Homo sapiens: one gene and its partner. The protein of the gene in region 1 purifies or fractionates together with the protein of each later gene. This does not show direct contact. Each region holds a gene or a part of one and is shown in the gene's direction. Other genes may lie near its edges.

Region 1 (5,118 bases):
ACTTACTCCTGGATGGCAGCAGGACAGCTTTAGAGACCTGTGATGCCCCTCGTCTCTAAGTACTTTTTAGAGAATTTTCTGGCTGTTTGCCTACTGCATTTAAACGATGAGACTTTTCTTGGTAGGTTCTCATATACTTTCTAGGATGTTTACGTTCTTGCAAACACCTGCTCCTCTGCTGAGCCCCATGGTCTTGACTCACTGCCCGGTCTTCAAGGTTCAGGCAGCAGGTATACACCCTTGACTAGCTGAGCGGGGTAGCTATCACACTACATATGTAATTGGTAGAGTTGGTTTATTATCTAAAAATGGAGTTGTATATTCTCCCATCACAGAATAAGTTTTCTCTTTAAACACCAGATAATATATTTTTTTAAATGGACATGAGTCACAAAAAAACCCTGAAAAATGTGTAAAGTAGAAGTTAGTAGATTGGGTTATATAACCATCATGCAATAAAGCCAGAACTTATAAACAGAAGAAATTAGCAACAGTAAACTATCCTAAGCAATTACTAGGTCAGAGACAAAACAGAATTGCTGACTGACTATAAAACAGTAATTAAAACATGAAATATAAAAACCTCTGGAATGTGGCAAATAGTGTATCCCAAGGAAAATTTGTGGCCTTATAGGCTTTAATTGCCAAATAGGAAGAATGAAAATAAATGAATAAGTCATGCAACCTCAAGAAGGTGGGAAAAAAGCCTTTTGTAGTCTAAGCTTCCCCAAAAGCAGAACGTGGAACAAAGATTTGTATGTAGGAATTTATTTAGGAATATGGTCACAGGGGCAGAGTGAAAGACAAGGGGAGTGAAACAGAGATGGGAGAACTGGTACAAGGATGCATTGGTATGCTCGGCCCTCAACAGGCTCTGCCTTGCAGGGCGTTTGAGGAGCCTTGGAGTCTTAAGGCTGCCCCGCTGGGGGATCGACGGGGAAAACATTTATCCATTGGTTTCTCTCCCCTATTGGTCAAGGGGGTCCCACAGGTGTTAATGCCTCTGCACTTCAGGGCCCAGCAGGTGTCCACAGGTGTCCCACATAGGACACCAGAGAAGCCCCAGGGCAGGAACCAGGCATAGGTGATGTAGGTCCTTGTGAAGGTTCTGGTAGCTTGCAGCTTCACAAAGCTGACTAACCTCTGTAGAACTGGACTGAGGATGGGATAAGAGGATTGGAGTGGTGCTTACACTGCCCCTTACAGAGCTGAAGGAACAAACTAAGAGCAGAATTAGTGAATTTAAAACAAATAGAAGAAAGTAGTGTTGCTCAACTAGAAAAGCTGGTTCTTTGAAAATAAAAGGAAACCACATTAAAATAAGTAAAACACTGCTCAGCCTAACTGTATTAGTCTGCTTGGGCTGCCATAACAAAATACCATAGACTGGGTGGCTTCACCAACATACTTATTTCTCACAGTCCTGGAGACTGGAAGTCCAGGATCAAGGTGCCAGCTGATTTTGGCTCCTGCCAGGGTTGCCTTCCTGGCTTATAGATAGTAGCCCTCTCGTTGTGTCCTCACATGGGGGAGGCGGGGAGTGAGTGGTTTCGTGGGCTCTGGGTCTCTCCTTCTTCTTGTAAAGGCATCACCCCTATTGGACCTCATTTAACCTTAGGACCTTTAGTCCCACCCTTAGGACCTCATTTATCCTTGTAACCTCCTGACAGGCCCCGTCTCCATATACAGTCACATTGGAGGCTAGAGCTTCAACATATGAATTTGGCAGGGGCATAAATGTTTAGTCTCTAACTCTAACCCTGGGAAAAAGGTCTAGAAAGCACATATATTCAAAAGAAGAAGTGGGAAAAGCAAACTAGCTCTGGATATGGAGGAAATGGAAAGAATCATGAACCAGTATTTTCTGCAACTCTGTACTAGTAAAGTTGAAATCCTGGAAGAAATGGATGATATTTTAGGAAAATGTAATTTCAAGACTGACTTTAGGGGCAGTAAAAGTCAGAAAATCACTAGTCCATATGTTTTTGAATACAGTGAACAAGAGGCTCTGGGTCACGGGACTGGCTGCTACAGTGATCTCCTCTCTCAGGAGCTGACGCAGAAGTGTAGGCCTTGGCTCATTCACTATCAGAAGACTGGAAAGTTTGGGAAACAGCCTGGTTCCTAACTTCCAGCTCAGCTTCCTAAGGACAGCCTGTGCTGTCCTTAGGAGGACTGACCTCTCAAGACCTCTCCAGAGGTGTTAGGATTCTTGAGGACATTCAGAGCTCTGAGGAAGTGGGGCAGGATACTGGGGGGCAGCTGCCTTCTCCAGGCGCTGCCTCCCTGGGGTCTGACTCCCCAGGCTTGTGTACTGGGGCTGCAGCCCAGCCAGTCCAGCTTCTCCTGCTGTGATACTGAAGATAATGCTTGTGTTGAGAAAGAGAAATAAGTCAAAGATCTTGGTATTGTCCTATTTCTTGAAATGAATTGTGGATACATGACTCTTTGCTTTATTTTTTAGGCTCTGCATACATTTTATTTTATTTTTATTTTTTATTTTTTTGAGATAGCGTCTCACTCTCATCACCCAGGCTGGAGTGCAGTGGTGTGATACTGGCTCACTGCAGCCTTGACCTCCCGGGCTCAAGTGATCCTCCTACCTCAGACTCCCGAATAGCTGGGACCACAGGCATGTGTCACCACCTCTGGCTAATTTTTTTTTTTTTGAGACGGAGTCTTGCTCTGTTGCCCAGGCTGGAGTGCAGTGGCGCAATCTTGGCTCACTGCAAGCTCTGCCTCCCGGGTTCACACCATTCTCCTGCCTCTGCCACCCGAGTAGCTGGGACTACAGGCGCCCGCCAGCACGCCCGGCTAATTTTTATATTTTTAGTAGAGACGGGGTTTCACCGTGTTAGCCAGGATGGTCTTGATCTCCTGACCTTGTGATCCACCCGCCCTGGCCTCCCAAAGTGCTGGGATTACAGGCTTGAGCCACCGCGCCCAGCCTAATTTTTGTATTTTTTATAGAGACAGGGTTTTGCCATGTGTCCAGGCTGGTCTCGAACTCCTGAGCTCAAGTGATCCACCCGCCTTGGCCTCTCAAACTGTTGGGATTATAGGCACGAGCCACCGTGCCCAGCAGGTTTTATATGCACTCTTCTTCTTCTTTTTATTTTTAATTTTTATTTGTTTATTTTTAAATTTTATATATATACTCTTCAGTGTGTGTGATATGTATCAGAATTGTAAAGTCCTAGGGTTCCTGGCAGTGAATTTCAGTGTCATAGCCTGGAGTCCTAGGCACTGAGCCAGTGAACAGATCATTCCCTTCTTGGGCAGCTCCTGTTCGCACTCCTATTTGGATGCAAGCTGCCTGTGTCTTGCATTTTCTGTGAGGGGCTATGTTGCTCTGGTTGGGGTGGCTTGCCTCACACTTGTCTCTCTTTGTGTTTCTCCTTAGCTCCAGCCCTTCTCTGAGACGGGGACCAGGGGATGGCAGCCATGCACCTGACAGCCTGGCCCCAGGTGAGCTGTGGGGTCCTTCAGCTCTTCCTCTGGGCAGTTTCAGATTGAAAAACATTGAGAAGGGGAGCTGGTGAGCCTCGGGATGACAGCTGCTTCCACCTGCTGGACTGGAACTTGTGGGAAAGAGGTGTTGTGCAGGGAGGGCGGCAGAGACCAGGACAGTAGCGAGTGGAGGAAGCGGGAGAGTGAGCAGGAGAGCAGGAGGGTGGTGGTCTTCTGCACACTGAGGGTCTCTGCTCCTCTCTACAGGAGCACCCCCAGCATAGGGCTCTGGGTGAATGGGGACGTGGAAACCGCCCCTGTGGGATGTACTGTGCAGGGGTGTCAGTGGAGCACAGTCGCAGAGGATTGGACTATCTGTGGTGGGGATGTAGAGAAGAGGAATAGCAGGACCTGATCAGAGAAGGATGGCCGTGCCTCTAATTCAGGGGTAAGGGAAGGTCACAGGGAGTGGAGTCAAGGGAGGGGGAAGACAGTCACATGGGACGGAATGTCTCATTGTGCTTGTGAAGCTTTCAAAGTTTAGGATGCAGACTTTAGGTCTCTGAGAAGAGCTTTCCACCCTGTCCTGCAGGAAAGAGGTGTTGTGCGGGGAACCTGCAGAACATAAACCTGCAAACCAAATTTTCCATACATTTTCAGGGACTTCACGGATCCCCTGAAGCTCATCCATGGACTTCCATGGACTACAGGTTGGGAACAGTCCACAGTCACACCAGTTGTATCTTTGGAGGCTTACTATGCTCCAGGAGCCATACTAAGCCCTTTGTATGGTCGTTTGGTCCTGACAACCGCCTCTGTGATAAGTGCTGTGTTGTACTCTTTCCACCTAAAAAGAAAAGGCAAAAGGGGAGTAGAGTAACTTGCCCAGGATCACAGAGTTATTGTGTGATTCAGAACTGCTTAGCCATAAGACAGCTGTGGAACCAGTGATGTTAACTTGGTCAGATTTGTGATGTGTATGGAATAATTTGTAAGGAAGATTCAAAAGCACGGTGACCACTTCACAAAGAAGAATCCCACTGGTCCCGTGACATGGGCTTCATCAAGGAAAGCCATCATTAAAGAGGGATCCAATTCAAGTAATGCTTAAGATAGAAAAATCATGGCCGGGTGTGGTGGCTCACACCTGTAATCCCAGCACTTTGCGAGGCTGAGGTGGTTGGATCACTTGAGGTCAGGAGTTCAAGATCAGCCCAGCCAACATGGTGAAACCCTGTCTCTGCTAAAAATAGAAAAATTAGCTGGGTTTTATGGTGCATGCCTATAGTCCCAGCTACTCAGGAGGCTGAGGCAGGAGAATTGCTTGAGCCCGGGAGGCAGAGGGTGCAGTGAGCCGAGGTCATGCCACTGCGCTTCAGCCTGGGTGACAGAGCGAGACTCCAACTCAAAGAAAAAAAAAAATCTTTCGGACATAGAGACTCAAAGGATTTGTGGTGATAAGGAAGGTGGGAAGTCAAGAACAATCCCCAGGTTTCTGGCTGAGGTTTCTTGTGAGGGTGATTCTGACCCCAGCTGAAGTGTAAGTTCAGAAGGAAGTGCCAACTTACCAGGGTGGTGGTGGCGGCACACAGTGAAGACATTATATTTTGTGCAGAGAAGTTACTTGTTGAAGGTCACACAAAGAAGGCTCACAGAAACACCTAAAGG
Region 2 (4,308 bases), on another chromosome or scaffold:
GGATCTTCATGCCCTTTCCTGGCCCAATTCCTTCTCTTTATTGCAGATATAATTACTCTTCTGATTTTATCATAAGTTGGTTTTGCTTATTCTATAGTTCCATATTAATGGAATTATTCATTATACATTCTTAAAATCTGCCGCCTTTTGATCAGCATGTTTTTGAGTTTCATCCATGCTGTTGTGTGTATTGGTAGTTTGTTCCTTTTTATTGCTCATGGTATTCAGTTATATGACTATATCACAATATAATTATCTGTCTTCATTGATGGATTGATTCCAGGCTGGGGCTTTTATGAATAAAGCTATTGAAAACATATATTTTCAGACATATGAATGAAAACATACATTTTCATTTCTCTTAAGTAAATAACTAGAAGCAGAAGAGCTAGTTCACAGGGTATTTATATAAAACCATTGTCAGACTGATTTCCCATTCAACACTTCATTTACTCTGTATCGTTATTAACATTTGCTATTGTCCTTTAATTGTACTGATGGGCATATAGTAGTATCTCATTATGGTTTTAATTTGCATTTCCGTTTCCCTCATAAGCAATTTTTCATATATTTCAGTAAGAAGGGCCTGTTCAAGTATTTTGCCCATTTTTAATTGGGTTTTTGTATTTTTATTATTGACTTATAGCAGTTCTTTTTAGTCTTAAAATGAATTCTTTTCAGATAAGTATTTTGAATATTTTCTTCCAATCTGTGACTTGTCTGTTAACTTGTAATGGTATTATTTGATGAACAGTTACTTTTAATTTTGATGAGGTCCAATTTATCATTTTATATGTTTATGACTATTGCTTTCTGGACCCTATCAAAGAAATTTGTCTGCCGAAAAGTTGTGCAGATACTGTTCTGTCGACTTCTACAAGCTTTTAGTTTTAGCTTTTCCATTTAAGTCTGTGATCATTCTCAAATAATTTTTGTGTGTAGTGTGAGGTAGGCCTTGAGATCCACTCTCTCCTTCATGTAGCTTTCCCGTTGTTCTGGATTCATATATTAAAAAACCTTTTCTTTCATTGATTTTCTGAAATTGACATATTTTTAACAGCAGTTTTAGGTTTACAGAAAAATTGAATGGAGAGTATAGAGTTCCCATATAACCACCCCCTTTCCCCTATTATCAACATTAACTTGCATTAGTATGGTGCATTTGTTACCATTTTTGTGCCAATATTGATACATTATTATCAAGTAAAGTCTGTAGTTTACATTAGAGTTCAGTCTTTGTGTTGTACATTCTATGAGTTTCCACAAATGTGTCATGGCATTTATTGAGGTATTGCTCCTCACAAGAGGGCATTAGCTGCGGGGGTCTGCCTGCAGACCTTGACCTAAAAGATGGATGAATGAAACGTACACTGACACACAGATATTGCTTTGCCAGTACTGCTGAGTGTCCGACTGCCTACACACCGAGAGAGGTTTGTCACTGCCGCTGGCCCTGAGTAGTTCACACTCCAGGCATTTATTTCGTATACAATTAACAACAGAAGCTCTGAGTCCACACACTTTTGGATAATTAACATGGTTAAGTGAGTAGTTCTATGAATGATTAAAGCTCAGGTACCGAGGTTTAAAGTAAATATCACTGGGGGCAATATCCCTGCCCCCCCAGAGGCCATCTGACTTAAAGGTTAGTTAACAGAGGTAGGGTAAACAGACTTAACTGGGGAAGCCTCTATTGTCCCTAGTATTTACTCTGTAACTTAATGCTCTAAGGTAAGAACCGGCTGTCTTCGGCCTGTTCAGCTATTACAAGCTATGTAACCTTTTGGCCTTCCAAAAAGGTTTGTGACTATTCCCTATAACTTTCCCTAATATTTCCCTTTAATATTTCTGCCACTATCCTGAGTGAATCCCAACAACTTATCTTCCATTATAGTATGATACGGAATAGTTATCCTCTCCTAAAAACCGCTTGTGCTCCACCTATTCATTTCTCCCTTCTTCCCTCCGTTCCCTGTAATCCCTGGCAACCACTGATCTTTTTACTGTTTCCGTAGTTTTGCCTTTTTAAAGAAGAAGAATAGAGTATGTATCCTTTTCAAATTGACTTCTTTCACTTAGCAATATGCATTTAAGGTTTCGCTATGTCTTTTTATGGTGAGAACTTATTTATCTTTATTACTGAATAATCTTTTATTTTATAGCTGTACCAGTTTGTTTATCTAGACCATCTGGAAACTACCAGTGGGAACACTAGACTTCTGATCATACCAGATAGGGAAGTTTTATTCTGTCACATGTGTAAAGGGTTGCTGATGTTAAACAGCATTGTATACACATCGGCATTATTTGCAGTTTCATAATTCAGAAAATGTGAATTTTTAATATTTCTGAGTCTCATTTATATGCTTTGTATATATTGACCCTGAGAAGAAAAATAAGTTTTATGCAAAGTCTCATCTTAAAATCATATAGCACATACTTTTGTTTTAGTTTTAAAGCTTCTAATAATACTTTCGTGATTTAGCCAAAAAATAGTCATGGTCAATATTTACATTTAAAGGGTAAGCTGTCTTCTAATGGAATGCTTGCATCATGCTAAATTAAATAATTAAAGAATGCATTTTTAAGCTTTGAAATTTGGTCTATTTACAGAAACGTAACATGGATCCCAGTTATAAAACGCATATGAGGTCTTTTTAGAAGTTATATGGGGTTTGCTTGGTTTCAATGTAGCTAAAGAGTAATACTGTCCTCCCTAAGGAATCCTGCAGTGGGGAGTTGAGATGGTTTTTTTTCTTGGACAGGGTGGCGGGGGCAGGTTAGTTTATCCAGTTAGAAAGTTAATGTGCCCAGTTAGACAGTTAATGTGCAATTACTTATATAATAAAGTTTGAGCTTTCTCAAAACCCAGTGGTATTCTAAAGTGATGTTTTGGCATGACATGTGGTAAGTTTTAATTGAGGTAAACTTTTTCCATATTAAATTAGACCATTAATTTGATGTTTGTTCTTTGAAGATTATTTGAAGCTTGTAAAGTTTGGTTCACCTTTTAACTTTGTGGATGTGTTCTTTATGTTACGCTCTTTCTTCCTTCTTCTTCCCAGGGTATAGTTAATAAAGTGTCTTCTAGCCACATTGGCTGTTTAGTACATGGGTGTTTCAATGCCTCCATTCCTAAACCTGAGCAGTTGTCAGCTGAGCAGTGGCAAACCATGGAGATAAACATGGGTGATGAACTAGAATTTGAAGTATTTCGTTTAGACTCAGATGCTGCTGGAGTATTCTGCATTCGGGGAAAACTAAATATCACAAGGTTAGTTTATCATTACGTAATTATCACTAGGTACTTAATTTCTATTTAATTCTGAATTTTAAAGAGAATTTTATTTTAATTTTAAAGAGAATAAGCCTCTCTAAAAATACCTGTTTATAGGAATATTCATGCTTTCAAACCATAAAGTCAATATAAACAATACTCTTAAGTAATCTGTAACAGTGCATCAAATAAATATTCTGAAACACAGACTAGCTAACTGGTCTGTATTTTAATATTTAATAGTTCAATTTTGCTGAGTATTTTCTATTTTGTTGTTAACTTTTTTTTTAAAGTTGACCTCTAAACTTGAAACTACTGAAAGCACAATTACCTTCCTAACTATTGGCCTGCTTTGTTTTTACACACAAAAAATTGTGTTGATTATTGTCTTCTGTGCCAGATATTTTAATTTCTGTATTATTCTGTATAGAAATTATTATAAGAATTAACTCTGATCTTGAGCTTGATTCCATGGGAGCCAAGTTTAAAGGAAGAAGGAGAGAGACAACTCTTAAAATGCTGCTATTGCTAATAATTTTTTCTGTATTTTGCCTTAAAGTTACAAGAGTATGGGTTGAAGTTCTGGAACAGCTGTTCAATTTCTGTAATGACAGAAATACAGTTTATATACATAGTACAGCAGCCTCACTATTGAGCATTGAAATATGACTAAGTCTGACTGAGGAACTGAATTTCTAAAGTTATGTTTTTGGTAGTGATTAGGTACATGTGCCTAGTGCTACTGTATAAGACTGAAGTTCTGGAGAGAAAGCTACTTCATCGATCCATGTTTTATTTTAGTGGTGTAAAATAATTCACAATGTTAAAGTAATACTATCTTAGTATCAGCTAAGTAGAACAATGGACTATTATTTGAAACAAGATTAAAATAGTAGACTGGAAACTCCATTGCTTTGATAAATACCAGATCATATTTTCTATTAGATGTCAGTGGTTTGGTTAATAAGCCTAGGTATTGTGGTGTTTAATGTTCAGTGACCAAATTTTTCTGAAACAACCCAAAACTTGGA

What was found. The genes of interacting proteins can lie anywhere in the genome.
Region 2: the proteins of ZNF23 (region 1) and POLR1F purify together in Homo sapiens (affinity purification with mass spectrometry; one large-scale study listed by BioGRID and IntAct). This does not show direct contact.

Annotation. Positions count from the first base shown.
Region 1 is NC_000016.10:71,455,114-71,460,231, reverse strand, and holds part of ZNF23 (zinc finger protein 23), read left to right. Parts: intron 1-3,403; 5' UTR 3,404-3,435; coding exon 3,436-3,468; exon of another isoform or gene 3,469-3,538; intron 3,539-4,110; exon of another isoform or gene 4,111-4,139; coding exon of another isoform or gene 4,140-4,160; intron 4,161-5,118. UniProt on the Homo sapiens protein: May be involved in transcriptional regulation. May have a role in embryonic development.
Region 2 is NC_000007.14:19,699,038-19,703,345, reverse strand, and holds part of POLR1F (DNA-directed RNA polymerase I subunit RPA43), read left to right. Parts: intron 1-3,065; coding exon 3,066-3,274; intron 3,275-4,308. UniProt on the Homo sapiens protein: Component of RNA polymerase I (Pol I), a DNA-dependent RNA polymerase which synthesizes ribosomal RNA precursors using the four ribonucleoside triphosphates as substrates.